Linked DNA regions of Homo sapiens: region 2 is linked to region 1. Evidence: fine-mapped expression QTL. A gene starts in region 1. The other region holds a variant in brackets. All regions are shown on one strand. Distances are between the middles of the regions.

Region 1 (2,913 bases):
CACAGGGCTTAAGAAGATAAACAAGAAACCCCAAACGACAACAAAGAAACCCGTTAGCTGTGGTTATCTCAGAGTCCTTTCTTATTGAACTCAAAGTAGTAAAGGCTGGAAAGCAGTGGAGAGGCTTCAAAGGAGCTGGGCAAAGGTTAATTAAAGGCTGTCGTCCTACGCTTTGCGACATTTTTGTTACAAAGAGCATGGATGACTGCTACACTGAGAAGGCATTTTAATGTTTAAATCTATCCATTGGTCAACAGCAAGCCTGTCTGCACGGCCCACACAGACGCTCCTTGACGAGTCGGCCCAAGCTCTCCTCCACCCAATCTCCGGTTTGCAACTTTACCGTCGGGTGTTGACGGGAAGGGGGTGTGGGAGCGGGGTGGGTGGGAAGAGTCCCCGCGCCCCTCCCCGCCCGGTCTGACCCGGCCTGGCCTCACTTCCTCCCGCGGCCGCGCGGCCTCCCGGCAGTGCCCGAGCCCGGCCCGCGGGTACCGCCCAGAAGGCGAAGGCGCCACCACCGCCGCAGCTGGCCCTCTGGCTCCCACATCCGGACTCACCGGCAGCTCCAGCCGCCGTTGCCTCCGCCTCCAGCCGCATTGCCCTCAGGCCTCGAGTCCCCCACTAGCTCCTTCCGTCCAGGCACGGGCTCCGGCGCTAGAGCAGTTTGAAAATGGCGCGGAGGGACGATCGGGGCCGACACGGAGGAGGCGCCGCGGTTGCCCCGGTAACGGGAGCGGCGGACGATTAGCGGCTCGCGGCGGGGACGCGCTTGGCGACGATGGCGGAGCCCCAGTGCCCGGAAATGCAACGGCCCGGACAGCGCGAGGCCACGGCGCCCCCTGGAGGTCGGCGCCCGCGGCCAGCAAATGCCAAACCTCAGCTGGTGCCTGAGCTGGCATCCTCTTCCTCCTGTCGGCGGGAGGTGTGGATCACCTACTGCGTGCGGGGAACAAACGCCGCCCCAGTACCGGTCCCTGCAGCGGAGTAGCCTTCACCTGCAAGGTGAACGCCTGCTCACCACGTAATCCCCAAACGCAGATATCACGTTGTCTCTGCAACTTTCCCTGACAACCACCCAATGCAATTAATTATCCCACAATAGTATCTCCCGCAGGCTCTCTGTAGAACCATAGAATTCATCCATCAAAATACAATCATTTGTTGATCCGTCTCTCTCTGCCGCCCCCAAATGTGAATTCCTTGAGTCAGAGACTATTCTACTCAGCAAAACATTTGTGAGTGGAATTAAATTGAAATAAACCGTTATAGTCCACTCACAGATGGAAAACACATAGTAAAATCCTAGAATTCCATTTCTCCCCTGAAAATTTCCCAGACAGTCAGAGGGAGTTTCATTCTTTCCTGTTTACTTTTCTCCCAAATAGGCCTTCTGAGGCAGCAGAATAGGGAAGGAAGTCAGAAGACTGACCAGCTCATACCTATGGAATGCCTATCATACATACACTTAAAATTATGGCAAGCTCACGCAGGCGCACTAAGAGAGAAAAAACAAGAAAACAGATATGACAATTATAGGAAATCCCCTCCCTAGAGTTAAAGAAGTGTAGGAAGTGGGTATAAAAGAACAAAGGCTATATTAATCCAGGGCTGACACCACTTGAAGATAAGCCCGTTCCTCTCTCTGGTATATTCTTTGCTTAATAAATCTTGTGGGGTGGTTATTTGTGTGTCTCATCCAATTCTTTGTTCATAACACCAAGAACCTGGAACTCCCAACTTCCAATCTGGTAACATATTTTGGTGAGCCAGCCAGGAGGTAAGCCCAGAAGAACTGGGACTTTTTATTTTCTTTCTTTTTTGCTTCAGCTCTTTCACTTTGGTTTAAAGCTGCCTTCTGCTGGCACGGATTGGGCAGTTAAGAACGAAAAAGGCACTGGCCGCTTGAAGACTCCCATTGTTGCGGGAAAGCAGAGGACCAGAAAGACCAATGGGTGGAGCAGGAGGATTTTATTAAGGTGTGCACTGGCTCCGTGGATTTGCATCCAAAAAGCTGAGCCCTGAACAAAGACAGAGCTTGGCTTATATAGGCTAAATTAAAAAAGCAGAACCAAGGCAGTAAATCACACAGTGACAGGTTTTGTAATCTATAGCATAACTGCTGAAATTTGCATAACTTTTGGCTTTGCTTAGCTGGTGGCCTTGCAGCTGCGTCAAAAGAAAAACAGGAACCTACAAATCTTTCTAAACATAGGCAAAAATAATCATAATTAATGGTCTAAGGAAAGAGAAACAGTAAAGGAATTTGTTTTTCTTAACCATTGCTCAGGGGTGTTTGGAGCTCATTCCTGGCTTCTTAGACTAGGTCACCATGACCTTCCTATAGCCTTGCTTGTTACTATCCTTAGAGTGAGTAAATGCAGTACAAAACTTTCTTTAAATTCCTGCCTCAACGTGACAGGATAACCTGATTGGGGAATGGAACAGATGGGTCCCACGGGGTACAAGATCAATCCCTGCAACAGTGAGGTGCATGTTTGTGTGGCTATAATTATTACATTATTTGCTGCTTGTTTTTTTGTTTTTGTTTTTGTTTTTGTTTTTGTTTTTGTTTTGAGATGGAGTCTTGCTCTGTCACCCAGGCTGGAGTGCAGTGGCATGATCTCGGCTCACTGCAACCTTCACCTCCCGGGATCAAGCAATTCTCCTGCCTCAGCCTCCTGAGTAGCTGGGATTACAGGCACCCACCACCATGCCCGGCTAATTTTTGTATTTTTAGTAGAGACAGAGTTTCACCATGTTGGCCAGGGTGGTCTCGAACTCCTGACCTCAGGTGATCCGCCCACCTCGGCCTCCCGAAGTCCTGGTATTACAGGCATGAGCCACCATGCCCAGCCAGCCACCGTGCCCAGCCTTGCTGCTTGTTTTATTTTTTTTTTCTTTTCTTCATTTGTG
Region 2 (2,913 bases), 22 kb before region 1:
ACATTTATATAACAGCAATTTACATATACGTGTGTGTACATATACTTAATTAGTCAAATATAAGGTTTCAATTAAACTTAATTATCATTTGTGGCTGAAAACACAAATATCAACAATGCTTCTTTGAGGGTGGGAGAATTATTTTCTTCTAGTTAGTTTAGCATATTGTCTTATTTTTTTCTAAATGAATATATACTTATATGATTAAAAAATTTAAAGCTTTTTCATGTTTAAGAGAGCAGTAGTAAGATAAATTCTTCTAAGATCACCACACACAGTGTATCTATAACTATACTGGTTATTCTCTCAGCCTCATATGCACAACAAGGATAATAAGACCAGGACACTAAGGATTTACTGGCGAGGATGAATCTATGGTTATGAAGTACTTTCCATGGTATCCAACATGTCCACCACGGTAAGTACTTAAAAAATGTTAGCTATCAATATTATCATTCTTATCTCAAAAATACATAGAATTTTGCATTACTAGAAAAAATAAGAAAGGTAAGAAAGTAACTACGGCAACATCTTACTGTAAGCCAACACTACTAAAACTTGGTCACAGTTCTGAGACAAGTATTATGAATCACATCCAACATTTAGTGCACATACAACTAGCAGTGAACAAACAGCAAAAATCCCTTGCTCTCATGCTTCCTTTTTAATTGACTTATGCCACCAGGACACTGCAGCTAGACTGTATAAAAAGTATACATAATGAAAGAACTTGGAAATTAGTATTTACCTTTATTTCCAATCTTAGAGAAAACTCTTCCAATTCAACAGGTTATTTTTTTAAAATCCTCAATCATTTGGGTGACTACCCAGTTTCTACCTTATAAGCAAGACACTCTTTCTGCTAGTTGCAGACTATAGGACTATATGCTTTTTCTGTATGCTACATTTAGGCTTCTGTTGGGATGATTACTTCCTTTGTTATTTGAAGACTACCAGAACAAGAAATGTGACTAGGAAAATGGTTTGTATTACCAAACAAAGCTATTAAAAGAGGACTGGGCTGGGCACAGTGGCTCATGCCTGTAGTCCTAGCACTTTAGGAGGCCGGGGCGGGAGAATCACTTGAGTCCAGGAGTTTGAGACCATCCTGGGTAACATAGTAAGACCTCATTTCTACTAAAAAAAAAAAAAAGCTAGGCACGGTGGCACATGCCTGCAGTCTTAACCACACAGAAGGCTGAGGTGGGAGGATCACTTGAGCACCAGGGGTTCAAGGCTGCAGGGAGCTATGATCATGCCATTACACTCCAGTCTAGGTGACAAGGCAAGCCCCTGTCTCCAAAAAATAAATAAATAAATAAATAAAAGAGGATGGAGTGCCTTTTGTAATAATCAACAAATATTTCAAGTTAATCAACAAATATTTCAAGTAATTAACTCCTGGTTTTAATATTAGTCAACTAACAAATCATAAAGTAGTTAAAAGAATGTAAAATTTCTAGCAGCTACCTACTATACATAAAATTAAGGAATTATAAAAATATAAACTTGCATGTCCATGCAGTGGAATATTACTCAGCCATAAGAAGGAATGAAGTACTCATAAATGCTACCACATGCATGAACCTTGTAAATATTATGCTTAGTAAAAGAATCCAGACACAAAATATATGATTCCCTTTATATGGAATGGCCAGAATAGATAAATCTACAGAAACAGAAAGTAGATTAGTGGTTGTCAGGAGCTGAGCAATAAAACAAAGCATACAAATTTTCTTTTCTTTTTTTTTTTTTTTTTTT[TA/A]AAGATGGAGTTTCGCTCTTGTTGCCCAGGCTGGAGTGCAATGGTGTGACCTCGGCTCACTGCAACCTCTGCCTCCCAGGTTCAAGCAATTCTCCTGCCTCAGCCTCCCAAGTAGCAGGGATTACAGGCATGCGCCACCACTCCCAGCTAATTTTTGTATTTTTAGTAGAGACGGGGTTTCGCCATGTTGATGTGGCTGGATGGTCTCGAACTCCTGACCTCAGGTGATAAACCCACCTCAGTCTCCCATAAAAATTTTCTTACTGAAAATGCTGGCAATTCAACATGACATCAACTTACCAGCTGAAGTTTTGCCATTGTTTCTTCAAGATCCTGCATTTCAGAGAGCTTTCTTTTAATCTCTTTCTAGGAATAAAAAGCCTATTAGGTATATACTTAAAAGTCTAAGAATACTTAAGTCATATGCAAATAGATCAAGTAATTTTGCAATTACTTCACGTTCCCTCTTACCAGTGAGATCTGAGGCTTTATCCCTATCAATTTCAACGAAGAGGCAAAATTGAGGCTTCTCTTTAATCTTTTGGTATCCCGAATGTTTACAGGAGCCTACTTGTAACATCTGAAGAAGGCCACTTGAGCATCTTGTAGGATCTTCCTTGGGCCTTAAATTTTGGGGTAATTCTATGGCACTGTCATTTCCTGATTTTCCTATCCTATTTGCTTTCTCCATACCTGCTTTTACCAACCTGGATCCTCTCTATACTGCAACTGAGAGAACAGAATGCCAAGATCAAAATATTATGACCCAATAGGAACATTTTGTTGAGCCAACTTGTCATTTCTGAGCATTTGCAATGGGACATGGGAAGCTGTGTTTAGCATGCTGTGTGCACAAGGATAGAAGATGCAAAAGGTGGTGGAAAAAGAGAGGGATGAGATATAGGAGTGTTGTAATGAAACTAAAACCACAAAAACAGAATTAAAACTGTACTCATTATATCCTTTTTCAAGATTGTGTTGGTGGTCTGGGGTCCTTGGAGATTCCATATGCATTTTAGAAGTTTCTTCTATTTTTGCAAAAAAAAAAAAAAAACACCACTGGGATTTTGATAGGGAATGCGCTGAATTTGAGTTGTATGGACACTTTAACAATATTGGGTCTTCCAATCCACGGACACGGAATGTCTTTC

Direction of the effects. Alleles are on the strand shown, and positions count from the first base shown. SD is a standard deviation of normalised expression in the study named.
For the expression in monocytes after R848 of the gene that starts at base 1,605 in region 1, TA is the high allele of the variant in region 2 and A is the other (moderate effect, 0.53 SD a copy in Quach 2016).

What was found. PIP is the estimated chance that this variant, and not a neighbour inherited with it, causes the effect.
Region 2: its variant is the best candidate, but not a certain one, in a credible set for the expression of EXOC1-AS1 in monocytes after R848 (Quach 2016, PIP 0.79).

Annotation. Positions count from the first base shown.
Region 1 is chr4:55,946,704-55,949,616 of GRCh38, reverse strand. EXOC1-AS1 (EXOC1 antisense RNA 1) reads left to right here and starts at 1,605. Exons shown (of 5, transcript XR_941069.4): 1 at 1,605-1,777. It overlaps CEP135 (centrosomal protein 135), which reads right to left and starts at 672. Exons shown (of 26, transcript NM_025009.5): 1 at 558-672. RefSeq lists silencers at 267-726, 777-916 and enhancers at 131-1,095, 1,714-1,863.
Region 2 is chr4:55,968,278-55,971,190 of GRCh38, reverse strand. CEP135 (centrosomal protein 135) reads right to left here. Exons shown (of 26, transcript NM_025009.5): 9 at 2,063-2,128. It overlaps LOC124900705 (a long non-coding RNA gene), which reads left to right. Exons shown (of 3, transcript XR_007058124.1): 2 at 311-418. Among named protein-coding and RNA genes, the nearest start is that of CEP135, 21 kb to the right of the region's middle. The variant TA/A (reference allele first, on the strand shown) is at 1,762.